Homo sapiens: one gene and its partners. Each later gene encodes a partner of the first gene's protein in a complex. Each region holds a gene or a part of one and is shown on either strand. Other genes may lie near its edges. The genes, in order: CWC27, SNW1, BUD13, SNRNP40 and GPKOW.

Region 1 (3,947 bases):
GAAGCCAACAAAAAGCTCTAAAAATGGAAGGTTTACTTCCCTAAGAGAATACTCTGCAGGGAAAAACACTTCAGTGGATGTATAATTCTGCAGCATTTTAAAAAAAGAAAAATAGTTACTTTATGACTCAAATCTAAAAAAACTAGAGACATTGATAATAATATCACTGGATGCTAGCTGGAAGGCTGTGTGGAGAAACTAGAATTTTGAACAGACATTTAAAAATGGGTAGACTTAAACAGTAAAAAAAGGGAAGAAAAAGCATACCAAAAGAAGGGGAACTAGTATGAGGACATGTATGAAAGTGGAAACGGAAAGGAAATGCTTAGGAAATAATGTCCAACTAAAACCATGTGGTTAGTGCAATGAGCTAGAAAGTTGGATAGCTAGGAAGCCAAGCTGCCTGAGGATTCAAATACCATATAAACAAGGAAGAGAGAAAAGAAATTAAGGATGAAAGACAGGAAGGGGAGCAGGCAAGAGGCAATTACAGTCATACAGGTGAAAGGCAGACTGGGGAAGAAATTGGTAAATTTGGTTTTACACTGGTTTTGTTATAGCTAACAGTGGAAGGCTCCAGTTGAAAAGTCCACTAGGCAATTAGATATGTAAATTAGTACTAGGAAGAGAAGAAATGACTGAAGTTCTTAATGTGGTAGTCATTTGGACTGAAGTAACAACTAGAGAGTGATGACAATAGAGAACTAGAGGCAATCTTAGGGAATACCCAAATTTAGAGAATGAAAGGAAGAAGCGTAAGATAGCAAAGAAGACCAAAGAGGATCACAGTATTATTTGTTGAGATAAACTGCTCTGTTGAAAGTATTCAAATTTATTTGGGATAACATTTATCTCTTATCTCTACTTCCGGACACCCAGCTCAATACCATATCCTCATAGCAACACCTGTCATTCATGACCACTATTTAACACTAGTCTTCAATGTTGTGAAGCAGACACTGCAGTTTATTTTTAAATTAACAAGAATTTCTCCAGTAGAATAAAAGTCAACATACCTTCCAAACAAAGTTGGATAAAATTTCTGCAAGCTTTAGGAGCTTCTTTGGACCACAACTCTATGTCAATATCTCCAGCTGTAGTTTTCAATAAAACCTGTAGAAAGAATATTACATTTTATTAAATTATTATTTTGCTTAATAATCAGTTGAATAACTATTTGACTTGTAGCAATCACTAGTGAGTTTTCAATTTTAAAAGAAATATTAAAAATTGTGTTTGGCTTTTGTTGATATACTCAACAAAATGTCAAATATTCACTACAACTCATTGTACATTTAGATCTTTCAAAATACCATTTCAGAAAAAGTTTGGGATTTAAGAAAACAATAGCATATATCTTTTTTAATCACAGAAAAAAACTTCATTCATTTAGAAAACGGTAATATCTAAAGTGAGTTCACTTGAGGCTAGGAGTTCAAGAACAGCTTCGGCAACACAGACAGACCCTGTCTCTAAGAAAATTTGTTTTAATTAGCCAGGCATGGTGGTGTTCCATGCTATTTGGGAGGCCGAGTTGAGAGGATCACTTGAGCCTGGGAATCTGAAGTAATAGTGAGCTATGATCATGCCACTATATTCCAGCCTGGATGACAGAGCAAGACCCTGTCTCAAAATAAAATAAAACATGACAAAACCCCAATAATGCAAATTTGTTATAATTGAGTTTCCCATTGCATCAATTCCAATAAAACTGTGTAGCAAATTAAGAAATTAAAGAATAATGAACCCATTAAATTGTGACATTATAGGACAATTTTATAATTACCCTTTTTAATTACCTTTTACTCTCTCTGCTCATTTAACATCATGCTATTCCTAATTTACAAAGGAACATTCTTAATCTAATTCTGGCTTGTGATTTACTAAAATACTATGTCTTAAAATCACCTTCTATAGTAAATAGAATCCCGTGATAGCCTTTCCACCAGCTCATAACAGCAGATACTCCTTGGTAGAACCAGAAACTTTGCAACTAGAACCCCTCCCTGCTGGGCCCACAGGAAACAGTTTATAACTGTCTTATTTATAACCACAAATAACCAAAAAGAATGTTAGGCTCTAAATTTGAACATTGTGGCATAGCTGGAAACCAATTTCTCCAGTATTACTTCTTCTTTTTTCTCCCCTAGTATACCAAAGTAGATCAGTGTCAATAATTTGTGACCATCACAATCTTTTAGAATGCTCTTTCAAGTAAAGAGTATGCAATATAACTGTTCAAAAACATGAGGCTGTTTCTCATAGGTCAGTATCATCAATGCTAAGTCACATTTCACCACCCTAAAAAGAAACCCTGTACTCATTAGCAGTCACTCCCTATTTACCCCTACTCCTACTCTCTGGCAGCCACTAATCTACTTTCTGTCTGTGTAGATTTGCCTATTAAACATTTCATATAAACAGAATCATACAATATGTGGCCTTTTGTGTCTGGCTTCTTTTACTTAGCATAATGTTGCTTTCAAATTATATAGGGGTCTTTCAGTTCTACACATCTAGTTTTTAAATGTCTTGAAAATCACAATGACTTTATACTCTTACTGGTAAATATTTCAAGACACAATATATATTTAAGGCAAAGTTCACCATTGAAAACAATAAATAGAAATCCATATTTCCAATGGTCTTCATAATAATTTCTGATTTTTTTGACAGACTTCCCATGCTGAGGTATCAGCTCTATCATGTTCTTATGATTTGCTTGTTTATATTATTAATAATATCTTCAATAAGAAATTTGTGATGGCTGGTTTAGTTAATCTAAATACTATGGTCTATAAATCTATTTGGCTAGTCGTTATGAAAAATTACACCACAATGCCAAAAAAGTGCCTTTTTTTTTTTTTGAGACAGAGTCTCACCCCGTTGCGCAGGCTGGAGTGCAACGGCACGATCTCGGCTCACTGCAACCTCTGCTTCCCGGGTTCAAGCAATTCTCCTGCCTCAGCCTCCCGAGTAGCTGGGACTACAGGCACCCACCGCCACACCCAGCTAATTTTTTGTATCTTTAGTAGAGACGGGGTTTCACCATGTTGGCCAGGCTGGTCTCGAGCTCCTGATCTCATGATCCGCCCGCCTCAGCCTCCCAAAGTGCTGGGATTACAGGCATGAGCCACTGCGCCTGGACTTTTTTTTTTTTTTTTTTTTTTTTTTTTTTTGAGACAGAGTCTCACTGTCTCCCAGACCCGAGTGCAGTGGTGTGATCTCAGTTCACTGCAACCTCCACTTCCTTGGTTCAAGCAATTCCCCTGCCTTAGCCTCCTGAGTAGCTGGGATTACAGGCTCACAACATCATGCCCGGCTACTTTTTTTGCATTTTTTTTAGTAGAGACAGGGTTTCACCCTGTTGGCCAGATTGGTCTTGAACTCCTGACCTCAGGCAATCTGCCATAGTCTCCCAAAGTGCTGGGATTATAGGCATGAGCCACTGCACCCAGTCATCATCTTTTTATATATATTAAATAATGAATTTAAACAAAGGAAAAAAATACAAATATATATAGATTTTCTCCCCACAGCTCATGGATGGTTTTGCACACCCACTGAAGTATGCACTCACTGGTTTAGAAACCACTGCTCTAATGAACACACTAATTACATCATCCCTCCCTCCACAGGCTCTGGAATCAGGATGCCCAAATTCAAATACTGGCCCTTCCATTTACTAGCTTTGTTACCTTGCGCACACTATCTGACATCTCTGTCACTTAATTTCCTAATCTAAAAACGGGATAATAATATCTTTTAGGATTTCTGTGAGGACAAAATGAGCTGTAATACATAGACTGCTTAGAAAAGTAAATGACAAATAATAAGTGCTCAAAAAATGATAGTCATTATTACGTGGTTTTTTGGCCACAGGCAACTTACACCTAGTAAAAAGAATGCATATATAATCGGGCCACTTTGCTCACCAGGGTTTCTTA
Region 2 (3,947 bases), on another chromosome or scaffold:
TGGGCCACACTAGGCATACTCCCATTTCAGAGCCATGTACTTGCTGGCCCTTCTGTGTGGGATGCTCTTCCCCCAGAAATCCACATGGTTTGCTTCCTTACTTTCTTCAAGTATTTCTGCTAACAGCACCATCTCAGAAGTGAGGGCTATTTGACCACTCTCACCTTCTGGCAATTTTATATCCTCTTTCCCTGTATTATTTTTCCTCCACAGCAATTATTACCTTTTACTATACTACATGATTAATTTCTGTCTGTCTACACTCACCAGAATGTTGACTGTTATATCCCATCCCCCTACCCACTGTCTAGCAAAAACACTTTGTGTCTAAAAGAGAACCTTGCACACAGCAGATGCTCAATATGAACTAAATAAATGAAAGAATGAATAAATGTACCAGGTAAGAATTTAGTAATGAAAAAAAAATAACCACCCTCACAAAATTTCTTGAATTATACTTAGGACTCGACTTCCCACTCTAATTGAATTAATACACCAATGTAGACCACTAAGTAAAGTCAGAGAGAAAATACTGGCAGATTTAATGATGAGAAATGCATTGGAGCCTACAAGATAGAAAAACTCTGGATTACTTCACCATATGAGGGAGCTGAATTATTCTGTTAGATACCTAATTTCTCTTAAGTTTTGAGATTAAGATAAGAGAAAATCAAGCCTATCATTTGAGTAATAATGCAATTTTGAAAAGTACACTGCTCAGAAGTTTAAAAATTTCTGGTACAGTCCCAAACTGAAGACCCACTTTTTTCTTATCTCCTGTTGCTTCAGCTTACTAAGGCAGAGATTACTCTCCATTTCTACACTATATCTGATGTATCTAAATTTTGTTTATATGTACCTACTTTATATGCAGTAGGAAAAAGATTTTCTAAAATAAGATATATTTTGTTCACCAAGCAAAATTCAATTCAGTAATGAGAATGTCATACCTTTTTCCACATGAGTTTTGATCCCAGCTCTTCTCTCCCTGGCTTTCTGGGCCATTTCTCTAAGTTTCTCTTCATGTTTTTCCTTTTCTTTCTGAGCCATTTTTCTCTCTACTTGGGCACGCATTTCCACAGCTTCACGAGCCTGTTGGTAAAGTCACATGTTAAACAGGACACTATCATGGGATAAATATTTATGGCTATCATCCAACTCCCTAACATCTGGCTGGTAAGAGCAATTATACAGAATTCAGATTTGTTATTGCTAATTAAAACAAAGAGTCTTGTCCACTAAAAGATATCCTGCCTGGAAGACACTGCAAGGTCAGCTTTTTTCTCTGGGAATATTTTAGTGATTGAAACTATCGTGACCCCAATTAATCTTGTAAGTCAAGTATTTCACTAATGCTTTCTCAGAAACAATCTAAAGAACAAAATTAAAGCCAGGCATAGTGGCTCTCTCCTGCAATCCTAGCACTTTGGGAGGCCAGGGTGGAAGGACTGCTTGAGCTCAGGAGCTTGGGACCAGCCTAGGCAACATAGTGAGATCCATCTCAAAAAAATAACATTTTCAAAATTAATAACACTTTCAAAGTTAATCAAGTCAACTCAAGATAAAATCTTAACTTACATCTGCTAGATAATTTTTATAAGGGTACTCACTGTGATACAAAAGACATTTTTTTTATGTTCCAAACACATGCTATGATGCATGTGAACTTCAATATCACATATTAATTCCATAATATTTATATTTACATATATTTTTTGAGATGAAGTGTCTTACTCTGCTGCCCAGGCTGAAGTGCAGTGGTGCGTTCTTGGCTCACTGCAACCTCCACCTCCTGGGTTCGAGAGATTCTCCTGCCTCAGCCTCCCAAGTAGCTAGGATTACAGGTGCATGCCACATCCAGCTAATGTTTGTATTTTTAGTAGAGATGGAGTTTCACCACATTGGTCAGGCTGGTCTTGAACTCTCAACCTCAAGGAATCCACCAGTCTTGGCCTCCCAAAATGCTGGGATTATACACATGAGCCATTGTGCCCAGCCTAATTCCATAATATTTAATACATTATGTAACATTAATAGATGGCCAATGCTATGAACGCCATTTTATGTACTATTCAATTCATTAGAATGTTTATCTGCCTTTTCCTGCAACTGCCCTTTTGGGGGACATCTACATCTAAAATAGAGGAAAATTTGAAATCAAAAATTATGAAACCTAGCAATCTTCAAAAAATGGGATCATCCTAGGAAACCATTATTCTGACATGTTGTGAGGGAGCCGGATCACCACTGTGGGGTGTATGTACACATCTACAAAAGCTGGGAGCATGCAGAGAGCTGCCAACTAGCAGCTGCCATTTCTGACACACGTACCATGGGTGAGACTCTCTTTGGGTGCTCGGTACTATAGTTAAATTATCAGTACCTTAGGTAACCAAGAATGGATTTTAAAAGTAACAAGAGCATTAAACAAATTATAACAAACCAACCTTCCGATCAGCAATGTAGAGGGCTTCTGCCAATTTGGCGAAATTTTCATTTATGTGTACTGTCTGTAGTCCTCTTCCATCAGCAGCCAGACGTTTGTCTAATGGAATTGTATAACCCTAGAGTGAAAGCAGACAGAAAACCCAGTCACAGAAGTGCTTCAATTAATCGTCTGAAGTTAAATTAATTTTATTTTTTTCGAGCTGGAGTCTTGCTCTGTCACCCTGGCTGGAGGGCAGGGGTGCCATCTCGGCTCACTGCAACCTCTGCCTCCTGGGTTCAAGCGAGTCTCCTACCTCAGCCTCCCGAGTAGCTGGGACCATAGGCGTGCGCCACACACTCGGCTAGTTTTTCTATTTTTAGTAGAGACGGAGTTTCACCATGTTGGCCAGGATGGTTTTGAATTCCTGACCTTGAGTGATCCGCCCTTGGCCTCCCAAAGTGCTGGGATTACAGGCATGAGCCATCGAGCCTGGCTAAAATTAAATTTAAATATGCCCACATTTTGAGAACCACTTAACTGGAGGTTCTTTTTCCTTGCATCTTTCTTCACAATGATGCAAAACAACAGCAGCTATCAATGAGTGCTTTATGTAGAAGATCAAGCACTTACACCTATGGTCTCATTTAACCTTCACGATAACTCTATAAAGCTTCTAACATTATTGTGTCCATTTCACTGATGCTTTGGTAACATCCCCAAGGTCATACAGTTAGTAAGTGGGCGATTAGGATTTAAACTCAGCAGGATTTCAGAACCCAAGCTCTGGAAAAATAGATATTTGTGTTAATAATTGTCGATTTTAATAAAAGGAAATCACTGTCAAACAGTTCAACAGTTGCTCCTCAAGTAAATTTAACAGTCAAACAAAGGTAGAATCACTATAATCTTAGCATCTATAGGAAGTTAAATCTGCTGTACTGTCTTAATGATCTGTTATATTCTTAGAATCCTGAAGTTTTAGTAAATAGAAAAAAAAGGCTGGGTGCAGTAGCTCAAGCCTGTAATCCCAACACTTTGGGAGGCCAAGGCAGGTGGATTGCTTGAGCCCAGGAGTTCAAGACCAGCCTGGCAACATGGTGAAACCCCGTCTCTACCAAAAATACAAAAAAGTAGCCAGGCATGGTGGGGCACACTTGTGGTCCCAACTACTCGGGAGGCTGAGGTGGGAGGATCGCCTGAGCCTGGGAGGTTGAGGCTGCAGTGAGCCATGATCATACCACTGTACTCCAGCCTGGGCAACAGAGCGAGACCGTCTCAAAAAAAAAAAAAAAAAAAAAAAAAACCAAAGAAAAAAGAAAAAAAAATGTTTGCTAAACAACTGAATTTCTACATTCTAAAACTTTGCATCCCATTTCAATAACTCAAGAACTGTACTTGAATGTCTATGTAACTTTCAGGCTTAGCTTTATTTTCCAGATATCTGACTAGTCTCTCAAATGTTGACTTTTAGTCCATGGTCTCATAATAAAATGAAGCATTATAGAACCAGCTCAAGATA
Region 3 (3,947 bases), on another chromosome or scaffold:
ATTACAGGAATGAGCCACCGCACCTGGCCATTTTCTTTTATAATATTGTCTTGCTTTTATGATGGCCCAAAAACCTAAACAAAGGAGGCTTTAGTGCCACTGCTCTCTGCATTGGTTAAAACAGATCTTGATTACTGAATTCATTTTTGTAACTGCAAGATCACCACCACCACCAGTAATAATGGTAAAACGATTATGATGATTACGATAGCAGTGGCAGCACAGGAATAATTAATAGGTGTCATTTATTGGGCATTTATCATGTACCAAGCATGGCTAAGCTTACGTGAATTATCTCATTCAATCCTTATAGCAATCCTTTGAATCCCACTTTTACAAATGAGGAAATTGAGGCTTAGAATAATTTACCAAAGGTTACACAAATGCTAAGTGGCCGAGCTGGGGTTTAGATCTTAATTCATCTTGCCCGAAACCTGTGCTTTTAACGCTCAGTGAGAGATCTCAAAACTGGGTTATATGAAGAATGATGGTAGGATTTTGGGAGAAGTAGAGGGCTATTATGACCTGGATTTAAATTCCAGTTCTGCCACTTGTTAGCTTGTGACATTGAGAAAGTTACTGAACTTCTCCGAATCAGTTTGCTATTCAGTAGTGTGGAGCCTTTCTTTACAGGATTATTGTGAGAATCGAGTTAGATTATATGAGTAAACCACAAAACACAGTACCTTGCACATAGTTGCTACTCTGTAACTAGGATTTATTATGCCAGCAATCTTGAAAGTTTGTCATGTGGACTTACATCACAGGTCAGAACTAGAATGAATTCAAAGAAGTTATAGGAAGGCAGATACGGTACTAGTAAAACTAAGAACTTTCTAACATTTTTGAAAAATGCAGTGGACTGTGTTGTAAGATAATGAGTTCCTTGTCAGGAAGGGATTGGGCGAGTGACCACTTATTAGGAATACTATAGAGAAGATTCTGATTTGTTCAGAAGTTTAGAAGATATGAAATGTGGTTTTAGCTCTTAAAGATTAATGATTCTGTGTACATCTCAGTGGCTCTTTTTGGTTGTATTCAAGAAAACCTATCACTGTGACTACCTACAACAAGAAAGGATTCATAGAAACCCAAAGTCCTTGATTAGTGCTAGGCATGATGGGGGGAGCCACCTATGTTTCCACTGTTAATGTAGAAGTAAAAGTGTAAAAGGAATTTAGTTGTTAGTTTACAAGTGGCTGTTGTGTACCTAGCAGGTTAATAAAAAGGTTTGTAATGAAAAAAATTAACCTTTGCAGGGTAATTGATTAATTAGAGAAGGATCTACAATTAAACCAATACAGTGACAATCAGATGTTTATGGAGCAAACATAACTGAAGACCCCTACTTACTTCTTCATGACCATTTTGGATATATGTACGCCCTTGTGTTAGGAATCGGAATGGTTGTAACTTCAGGTTCTTGAGACAGTGCTTCTTGGCTGGATCCTGTGGATTTCCTAAGATAGGAAATCTTTACTCTCACAGGTGGCAGAGTTTGTGGATGAGCGGCCAGAAGAGGTAAAGCAGATGGAGGCCTTTCGTTCCAGTGCCAAATGGAAGCTTCTGGGAGGTGAGTTCCAACAATAGATAAATCTAAATTTCCATTAGTAGGGGAGATCTTTTTTCCTTTTCTATACTTTTCTTTAGAGGAATGCATAGTTTGTTTTAGCATGTCATTGATCCTGAAAAATAAAGCAGGAAAAAGGAAGTTGGACTTCTTCAGAGGTAGTAAGACATAGGAACTTATAGACCAGATATTCCTCTTTCTCTTATATTTTGGCATTAGGATTACTGAGGTTGGTGACTAATTTGGAGGCCTTTGAGCACCCATTCCTCTTTGACTCAGAATAGGAGAGCACTTGGTGTATAGGCAAGACTTTGGGAGGAGTTTACAAGAAACAGGAGCAGAATTTGGGGACTTTAGCTACCACTATCCTCTTCCACAATGAAGCAACTCATTTCTGGGGGGTCAAGGACCAGTGTATTTTGTTCTGTTTGTGTTAGTAAATTTCTCTCTTCTTTCCTTAAGTATTGGTGTTTTATAGTGCATTACCCTCCACTTGCCCACTTTGGACTCTTCCTAAGCTAATAATCTTAATTTAACTCTCTTTAAAAAAATTTGAGTCCTTGAGAATTGGATAAAAAGCATTTGTTTGTCACATCTGTTTGAGCATAGACTAGTCTTATTTGCCATGATATTCCCCTATCTAGCACAAGGAGCTACCTTTAATAAATATTTGTAGAATTGTTTAATTGCTAGTAGGTATTTGATTTTTGTAGCCTAATCAGAATTCTTTTCCAAAGAGAATCTTTTGGTCTCCATGTCTGTTTGTCTAGGAAGACACACAGACACACACATACACACGGTGCCTTTTCTTGTGTATCTGAATGTTTAGAAGGTCAGTCACACACACACACAGTCACACTCACACTCACTCACTCCTTTTCTTCTGCCTTGCTTTCACTCCCCCATCCCAATTTGTTATTGGAAGTACGCTTACCAATCTCTGACCCTTGCTTCCTTCAGATTTACTGTTAGGCCCCCCACAGACATCATACTTTTCTCTGTGGAGTGGATTCCAATCAGATAGGGCTGTTCCCCAAAGTAAAGGAGTTGACTTGGTTTAATTCATCCATTTAACAAGTATTCATCAGTTCCTACCCAGCTTTTATTTGTATTTGGGCTGTGGAGCTCAATGACAAGAAATAGAGGTAGAGGAAGAACTGGATTTTGAAACTGTTCCAGTTGCTATAGATATTTCATTCTGTGGTGCCTTTGAATATGGAAGGTCTCAAACTATGTATTTTAACTTTAAAGCTTTACATATTTTAAAGATTGCACATGGACTCTGGAGTCAAATAGAGCTGGATTTAAATATTCCTCTACCACTTATTAGCAATATGACTTTGGCAAGTTAATCTTTCTGAGTATCAACTTCCTCATCTATAAATGAAATGACAGTATTTATGTCCTAGGCTTGTTGTGAGAATTGAATCAGGTAATCTCTATGAAACACTGGCACACAGTAGGTGATTGGTAATTACTTGCTCCTTTCTTTTTTATGGTGATTTTTCCCCTCTCTAAGAAAGAGCACAGTGAAATGGATTAAATAGTTAACAGCATTTTATTTTGATATTCACCGTTTTAGTCAATTTACCTATTGAAAGAAGAGTGAGTACAAACTATAAAGTATCTAGGCAAAATATCAGTAGGAGCCACTAGCTGGGAACTCTGCACAAATGAGGTTTTAGAAAGAACATTGGACTGGGAGTTAGAAGACTTGGATTCTAGCCTGTGTCTTCATTTTAGGAGCTGTGACCTTAGGTAAGAAATCACTCAGCTCCTCAGCTGAAAACAGAGGCTGTGGCCTCTGTTTTCATGCTGTAATACAAGGGTACCTGCCCTGCTTACCTTAAAGGGTATAATATGAAAAATGTGCTGAAAATGCTTTGCAAATTTATGACTTGGTAGGCGGAGGGGTTATTCTTAAGATATTCATGAGTGGTGGTTTGCTGCCCCTAAGCAAGAAAACTGTGCAGGCCTTTTGGGCTTTCTGAGCAGTTCTGAGGTATGTGCTACTGGAGCATCTTTTGAAACTGGGTGTGGGGGTGGACAGAGGGACAGAGCATTTGTGGGAATCTGACTCTTTGTTATTTGTGTTTAGGCCACAACGAAGACCTACCCTCAAACAGACATTTTCGTCACGATACCCCGGATTCATCTCCTAGGAGGGTCCGTCATGGTACCCCAGATCCATCTCCTAGGAAGGACCGTCATGACACCCCGGATCCATCTCCTAGGAGGGCCCGTCATGACACCCCGGATCCTTCTCCCCTCAGAGGGGCTCGTCATGACTCAGACACATCTCCTCCCAGGAGGATCCGTCATGACTCCTCAGACACTTCACCCCCAAGGAGGGCCCGTCATGATTCTCCAGATCCTT
Region 4 (3,947 bases), on another chromosome or scaffold:
GTGTCATTCACTAGCTGACCACTAAGCTAACGAAAAAAAGAATTCAGTGGTCACACAGGACAAAGAATACAAACTTTACAAAATTAGTTCAAAAATTCACTAAACAGGCCGGGCATGGTGGCTTACACCTGTAATCCCAGCATTTTGGGAGGCCGAGGTGGATGGATCACTTGAGGTCAGGAGTTCAAGACCAGCGTGGCTAACATGGTAAAACCTTGTTTCTACTAAAAATACAAAAATTAGCTGGTCATGGTGGTGTGCCCCTGTAACCCCAGCTACTCAGGAAGCTGAGGTGCAAGAATCACTTGAACCCGGGGAGTGGAGGTTGCAGTGAGCCAAGATCGCACTACTGCACTCCAGCCTGGGCTACAGAGCGAGACTTCGTCTCAAAAACCAACCAACCAACCACTCTCACCTTACCCCAACCCACAGAAAGTCACTAAACAAACAACTACAATAAGCAGCTCTGGGGACCTAATTTCCAGAGTCACCACGCTATAATATTTAAATGCCTAGTTTTCAACAAAATATAAGGCATGCAAAGAAGCAAGTAACTATGGTCCATATAGAAGGAAAAAGTAGTCTTCTCAACAAATTGTGCTAAGACAACTGGCTAACCACATGCCAAAGAATGAAGGTAAGCCCCTGCCTAACATGATACACAAAAATTAATTCAACATGGATCAAGGACCTAAATGTAAGAGCTAAAACTATAAAATTCTTAGAGGGCCAGGTATGGTGGCTCATGCCTGTAACCCCAGCACTTTCGGAGGCCGAGGCCAGGAGGATGGCTTTAGCCCAGAGTTAGCGACCAGCCTGAGCAACATGGTGATTCCTCATCTCTACAAAATAAAAACAAAAAGTTGGGTGTGGTGGTATATGCCTATAGTCCCAGCTACTTGGGAGGCTGAGATGGGAGGATCGCTTGGGCCAGAGAGGTTGAGGCTGCAGTGAGCCGTGATTGCGGATCTGTACTCCAGCCTGGGTGAGAGTGGCGGCATCTCGGCTCACTGCAACCTCTGCTTCCGTGTTCCAGCAATTCTCCTGCTTTAGCCTCCTGGATAGCTGGGATTACAGGCATGCGCCACCACGCCCAGCTAATTTTTCTATTTTTAGAAGAGACGGGGGTTTCACCATGTTGGCCAGGCTGGTCTCGAACTCCTGACCTCAGGTGATCCACCCACCTTGGCCTCCCAAAGTGGTGGGATTACAGGCGTGAGCCACTGCACCCGGCCAAGACCCCATCTCTTAAACAAACAAACCCTTATAGCTCTACTTTTTTAAAGCGTGGATAACACAGAGAGGGCTCAGAGATGTTTCAATAAATGAATGACACACTTGAGAAGATGAACCACAAGTAAATGATTTAAAAGTATGGGTCGTTTCATTCAGAAGAAAGAGACTTTGGGATGACTGTTCCAAGTTTTAAAGGGCTGGCATCAAAAAGAAAGGAATCAGCCATGGAACTTTAGGGAAGGTCATAGGCTTAACTTCAATCCTGTAGTCAACAAGGAGAGTCTGAGTAGGATCTGTGCCAAGATGCCTCTTCCTCCCAATTCTCATGGTTTAGGATGAAAAGTAGTTTCTTCTTTGTTCATGTAAATACGAACTAAAAATTAGTTCATTACTCAGATAAATGGTCTAAAAAGAACGCTTCACTCCTCTCCTACATGCCCAACATCTCCTACTCCCCCAACTCCTGTGGTTACAGAATCAAGTCCAAACTTCTTAACCTGGAATTCAAGGCCTTAATAATTTAGATCCTATATATTTTATAAACTGTACTATAATCTTTGTCTCAATAGATACTTCACTCAGGTCAAATCTATCTTTGTCTTTCTCCTAAAAGTCATGGTAGTCAAAGTTTGTTTAAAATAATTTAGAATTTTAGTTCCAGATAACTACCACTTTTAATAATTATTTTACTTTGAAGCAATCATAAATTTATAGAAAACTTGGAAGTAAAAAGAACACTTTTTTTGGTCTAAATCATTTGAGAGTAAGTTGCTTACCCAATGCCTTATCACCTTTTTTTTTTTTTTGAGATGGGAGTCTCACTCTGTCTGTTGCTCATTCTGGAGTGCAGTGGCGTGATCTCCGCTCACTGCAACCTCCACCTCCCGGGTTCAAGCAATTCTTCCTCAGCCTCCTGAGTAGCTGGTATTACAGGCATCTGCCACCATGCCCGGCTTTTTTGTATTTTTAGTAGAGACAGGGTTTCTTCAAGTTGGCCAGGCTGGTTTCAAACTCCCGACCTCAAGTGATCCACCTGCCTAGGCCTCCCAAAGTGCTAGGATTACAGGCATAAGCCACTGCACCTGGCCCCTTATCACTCCTAAATAGTGTCTGTCCTACAAAGATGTTCTCCTACATCATCTCAACATAACCATCAAAATCAAGAAATACAGATACACTATCACCATTTTATCCTCAAATCCCACTCAAGTTTTACCAGTTATCCCAAATGTCTTATTGCACAAGGATTCAGTCTGGAATCATATGTTAAATTTAGACTCCAGTCTGCAAGACTCTCTCAAACTTTCCTTGAGTTTTATGAACTCAACACTTCTGAAAGTTACAGGTCATCATCCCCAATTTAGGTTTGTCTTATGTTTCCTCTTGATTAGATTTAAGTTATACATCTTTGGTAGGAATATCACAGAAATGATGCTGCATCTTTGTTGTATCCTAGCAAATGGTTCATGATTTTGTCTTGTCCCATTACTAATTAGGTCGATTTGATAATTTAGTTAGGATGTTCTTTTGACAAAATAAGCCTTGACAAGTACAAGGCTTATCTTGTACTTTCACTGCCCCTGGGCTGAAATAGGAGCCCTGGTTCCTTTTAATGGAAAACAGTACCTGTGCAGTAAGGGGTGCTATTGCTATTGGGGTCTTGTTGCTCCTAAACCTTTTCAGTGGACAGTCAGGCAATATATGTACATTTAGGTACACACACACACACACTCACACATTTATGTCTATTTTTTTCTATATGTTTCTATATTGAATATTGTGAGTTCACACTTATACCTCACACAAGATTCATTTTAGTCTTCTCTTTTGTACTGGTAACTCTGTTCTTGGACAGAGAAATCAGCCTCCCATTAAATTCAATATATTCACTTATTTGATTATGCTTCCTGCATGCAACCAGTTTCCCATATTCTCTTCCACCCTTCCCTACTTGAATTGTGATTCCCATTCTTGGTTGAAGCCATGTGTGACTCTTCCTTAACCAACTTGGGTCATTCCTCTGTGTGAACACCCTCATCACTCTGCTACGGCTCTTTTCCAGTCTGCACTTCTCCAAGCATGCAGTCATCATCTTGCTCAGTCTCAGACTCCCTACACCAAATCATTTCTACCCTGTGTGGATGCCCTCAGTTCAGGCTTTGACATCCACATTCTCCCCGTACTGCTTCACGTACAGGCGACCCTTTCACCCCATTAGGGCACTGTTGGGCTGCTGCCCCTCCCTCACCCTCAAATTCCCCACACTGGTTACCTACCCTGTGTTGTATGGATGCCTTCCTCACTCTCTGACTACTCCCTACAATGTACTGCCCTGCCCAGTGTGGATGCTCTCCTTACCACACTTGTGCTCTGACACTCTACTCTGGGCCACCTTGGCCCATCTCTAACTAGAGCACCTTCCCTGCTTTGGCCTATATAACTGGCTTTAGGACTGAACTGCTCATGAAAGGGAAATTTATATATATATGAGTACATACACACATACACGCAGTATTTCACTTAATTTTATTAGAAGAATGCACTTGATAAAAAGTTTGAAAACGATCTGTATGAATAATGCCCAGAATGCTTTTAGACTAAAAATGCAAGTGCTGTTGGAAACCTTTGCTTTCTGTTAAGAACTCTGACATGTAAAAAGCAACATGACTTTTTTTCCTCTTAAACTGAAGTTATTCAATTCCTGTACTTGC
Region 5 (3,947 bases), on another chromosome or scaffold:
CATTGTCAGGATCAAGGCCTTCCACCTAAAGTGTTGAGGGGAAGAAGTCAGGTAGGGGTTGTGGACTCCACCCACATTCCTAGGACCAAGATGTCAACCCCTTACCTCTAAGAGGCCTGCTTCCTCTGTCTCCCCAACCAGACTCTGACCCCTGAGAAGTGGGACCAGGTCTGGTTCCTGTGTCTCCCTCAGCTGACTGTGGGGCTTCCTTGGATCCTTTAAGCATTTAATCTTCAGGGACTTGTGGCATATGGCATTCTCTTCCTTTTAGCTGGGAACTGAGGCTCACAAAGGCCAGCAAGTGGTCCTGGGTTACTGAGTGAGGCAGTGGGCCAAGCAGACCTAAAAGACTAGGAGTCCCAGCCTTTCTACCTCAAATCCAATTATTCCTCCATCTGACCCTCGGATCAACCTTCCCTGCTGCCTGTTTTGGGCTCCCGGGATATCTTGGTTCCTTACCTTCCCATAGAGGCCTCGGTGAGGGCCAGAAAGAACCACCACAGCTCCTCCAGGCACCAGCCCTTGAGGCTGATCTTCCTTATCTTTCTCTTGCTCCTCATCTGGTCTTGGCATGCGGGAGGGGCCAGTGGGGGTCAAGGCCTGGGCCTCGGTCAGGTTGGCACCCAGCCCTAACCCCTTGGGCCTCAGTGAGTTGACACGGGGCTTCACTACTCTGCAGGGAGGAATATGGGTTTGTTGGAGAGGATGCAACAGTCTTCAACACCTTATTTACTTCCTCTTCCTGCCCAAACCCGCCCCACCCGCCCCATTGACATTTTCTTTTCTTTTCTTTTTTTTTGGAGATGGAGTTTTGCTCTTGTCATCCAGGCTGGAGTACAATGGCTCGATCTCGACTCAATGCAACCTCCACCTCCCAGGTTCAAGGGATTCTCCTGCCTCAGCCTCCCGAGTTGCTGGGGTTACAGGCGCATGCCACCATGCCCGGCTAATTTTTGTATTTTTAGTAGAGACAGGGTTTCACCATGTTGGTCAGGCCGGTCTTGAACTCCTGACCTCAGGTGATCCGTCCTCTTTGGCCTCCCAAAGTGCTGAGATTACAGGTGTGAGCCACCGTGTCCAGCCCCCACCAATATTTTCAAGGTTGCCCTTTCTGATCTCATATTAGGACTGTTTTTGACCTACAGAAACAGCAATTTCATTTGGTTCAACCTAATAACATGCTGCATATACCATCTATTACATAATATCTACAGTGAGATCAGAGGCAGATCGCTGTAACCAAATATACTATTTCTACAGGGGAAATCATATGAACATTCACACCGAGCAGGAGAAACCGGATTATAAATACTCAACATGGTTGGGCATGGTGGCTCATGCCTGTAATCCCAGCACTTTGGGAGACCGAGGTTGGTAGATCACCTAAGGTCAGGAGTTCAAGACCAGCCTGGTCAACATGGGGAAACCCCATCTCTACTAAAAATACAAAAATTAACCAGGCATGCTGGTGCATGCCTGTAATCCCAGCTACTCAGGAGGCTGAGGCAGGACAATCACTTGAACTCAGGAGGTAGAGGTCGCAGCGAGCCGAGATTGCGCCACTGCATCCCAGCCTGGGTGACAGACAGAGACTCCATCTCAAAAAAAAAAAAAAAAAAAAAAAAAAAACGCCAATTCAGGTCATATTTGGCTGCCAATGGGTTATGAAAAAATGTTTGGTTTTCAGAATTATTGAGTTTGCAATTGTGAAGAAAGGGTTGCAAGTCTGCATGACAATAGCAAATGTTTAGTCTACGCTTTCTTGGGGTCAGGGCCTACTGTATGTGCTTTATGTATATAATTTCTTTTCCTTTTCCTTTTTTTTTTTTTTTTTGAGACGGAGTCTCACTGTCACCCAGGCTGGAATGCAGTGGTGCAATTTCGGCTCACTGCAAGCTCCGCCTCCCAGGTTCACGCCATTCTCCTGCCTCAGCCTCCTGAGTAGCTGGGACTACAGGCACCCGCCACCATGCCCGGCTAATTTTTTGTATTTTTTTTTTTAGTAGAGATGGGCTTTCACCGTGTTAGCCAGGATGGTCTCGATCTCCTGACCTCGTGATCCACCCACCTCAGCCTCCCAAAGTGCTGGGATTATATGTGTGAGCCACCACACCCGGCCCTAATTTCTTTTCTTAAAATTAATTAATCTTTTGTAGAGATGGGGCCTCCCTATGTTGCCCAGGCCAGTCTCAAACTCCTGGAGTTAAGTGATCCTCCTGCCTCAGTCTCCGAAAGTGCTGGGATTACAGGCATGAGCCACTACCTGGCCTATGTGTATAATTTCATTTAACTCTCACAACAGACCTATGAAGTCAGTACTATTACCCCCATTTTTCAGATGAGGAAATTGATGTCCCTAGAGGCAAACTTTATATAAATGGGATTCTATTAGAGTTTCAAAGGGCAAATGGGAGTTTAAAACAGTAGTGGAAGGGGCTGCTGAATTAGTTAGGGCGATAATGTATCCTCCCTCCCTGCCTAGGTGGTTCTGGTTTGGCAGTGACCCTGGGGATCTTGATTGCAGCCTGATGATCTGTCTGTCCCCTCGACCCTATCCCAGAACTCACTGATTGAAGGTGCGGCCGATGCCCTCGCCAGGTTTCCAGCCCATGCCCCGCAGCATGGCCAGCCCATAGGCCTCCACGGGGACCGCCTCATAATTAGCCTCCTCTGGCACCTACAGGTTCAGGTAGAGGAAGGAGGGTCAGGCTTTGCTTACACTGGGTCTTCTATTTGAAGTGCACTTGCTGCCCCCCACTGGGAGACCTGCTACGCGTCTTTTCCAATCAGCTCAAGGGTGAGTTTTGATTTCCTCTTTCCATCCCTCACTGTACTCCTCCATGTTCAGTCCTTCAACAAATATAAAGCACCTTGTCTATGGCAAGTACTGTTCTAGGTACTGGGGATGAAGCTGTGAACCAAACAGACAAAAACCCCTACCCCTGCAGAGCTTCTGATCTAGTTGTGGAGACATACTATAAATAAAACCCAGAAAACATGATATGTCAGGTGGTGATGTAAAGAACAAGAAAACAGGGTAAGAAGATGCAGAGGGATGGAGAGGGAGTGCCACTGGGTTGACATTTAAGCAGAGATCAGGAGATGACAGCAGAGGGAGCCATGAGGATATGAGAAGAAAGTGTCCCAAGCTGAAAGCATAGTAACAGCAAAGGCCCTGAGGCCGGACAAGGCTTGGTATGTGTGAGGGGTATCATGAAAGTCACCATGACTGAAATGGAGAGAGTGAGAGTAGACAGCAGAGAAGGGTGGGGAAGAGACCAAATCAGGAGAGCTGGGCAGGAGTCAGAGGACCTTGAGCCAGGTGGGAGCCACAAGAGGGACCAGTGAGGAAATTACTCTAATAGTCCAGATGAGAGATGCTGGTGGCTCAGCCCTTTGCAGTGGTATTGGTGGTGGTGAGAAGTGGTCAGTTCTGGGTGTCATTTTGAAAAAAGATGATAGGATTGTGCTGGCATATTGTATGGGGCACGAAATAAAGAGAGGAATTGAGGATGACTCCAAGGTTTTCTTTTTTTTTTTTCTTGAGATGAAGTCTTGCTGTGTTGCCCAGGCTGGAGTGCAGTTGCATGATCTCAGCTCACTGCAACCTCAGTCTCCTGGGTTCAAGCGATTCTCCTGCCTCAGCCTCCCGAGTAGCTGTGATTACAGGCACGTGCCACCATGCCCAGCTAATTTTTGTATTTTTACTAGTGATGGGGTTTCGCCATGTTGGCCAGGCTGGTCTTGAACTCCTGACCTCAGGTGATCCGCTGGCCTCAGCCTCTCAAAGTGTTGGGATTACAGGCGTGAGCCACCGCCCCTGGCTGACTCCAAGGTTTTTATGCTGAGTGAGAGGAAGGATGGATGGAATTTTTGGTCACCTGATATGTAGAAAGCTGCAGGAGGAGGTTTATAGAGGGAAAAATTAGAAGAATGAGGCCAAAGCT

The links.
Region 2: CWC27 (region 1) and SNW1 share a complex: the UniProt entries of both Homo sapiens proteins name them as parts of the minor spliceosome.
Region 3: CWC27 (region 1) and BUD13 share a complex: the UniProt entries of both Homo sapiens proteins name them as parts of the activated spliceosome.
Region 4: CWC27 (region 1) and SNRNP40 share a complex: the UniProt entries of both Homo sapiens proteins name them as parts of the minor spliceosome.
Region 5: CWC27 (region 1) and GPKOW share a complex: the UniProt entries of both Homo sapiens proteins name them as parts of the minor spliceosome.

The regions. Positions count from the first base shown.
Region 1 is NC_000005.10:64,771,857-64,775,803, reverse strand, and holds part of CWC27 (spliceosome-associated protein CWC27 homolog), read right to left. Parts: intron 1,114-3,947; coding exon 1,017-1,113; intron 1-1,016. UniProt on the Homo sapiens protein: As part of the spliceosome, plays a role in pre-mRNA splicing. Probable inactive PPIase with no peptidyl-prolyl cis-trans isomerase activity. As a component of the minor spliceosome, involved in the splicing of U12-type introns in pre-mRNAs.
Region 2 is NC_000014.9:77,730,038-77,733,984, forward strand, and holds part of SNW1 (SNW domain-containing protein 1), read right to left. Parts: intron 2,565-3,947; coding exon 2,448-2,564; intron 1,093-2,447; coding exon 951-1,092; intron 1-950. UniProt on the Homo sapiens protein: Involved in pre-mRNA splicing as component of the spliceosome. As a component of the minor spliceosome, involved in the splicing of U12-type introns in pre-mRNAs.
Region 3 is NC_000011.10:116,762,988-116,766,934, reverse strand, and holds part of BUD13 (BUD13 homolog), read left to right. Parts: intron 1-1,488; coding exon 1,489-1,573; intron 1,574-3,668; coding exon 3,669-3,947. UniProt on the Homo sapiens protein: Involved in pre-mRNA splicing as component of the activated spliceosome. As a component of the minor spliceosome, involved in the splicing of U12-type introns in pre-mRNAs.
Region 4 is NC_000001.11:31,283,215-31,287,161, forward strand, and holds part of SNRNP40 (U5 small nuclear ribonucleoprotein 40 kDa protein), read right to left. Parts: intron 1-3,947. UniProt on the Homo sapiens protein: Required for pre-mRNA splicing as component of the activated spliceosome. Component of the U5 small nuclear ribonucleoprotein (snRNP) complex and the U4/U6-U5 tri-snRNP complex, building blocks of the spliceosome.
Region 5 is NC_000023.11:49,117,138-49,121,084, forward strand, and holds part of GPKOW (G-patch domain and KOW motifs-containing protein), read right to left. Parts: intron 2,678-3,947; coding exon 2,568-2,677; intron 674-2,567; coding exon 460-673; intron 26-459; coding exon 1-25. UniProt on the Homo sapiens protein: RNA-binding protein involved in pre-mRNA splicing. As a component of the minor spliceosome, involved in the splicing of U12-type introns in pre-mRNAs.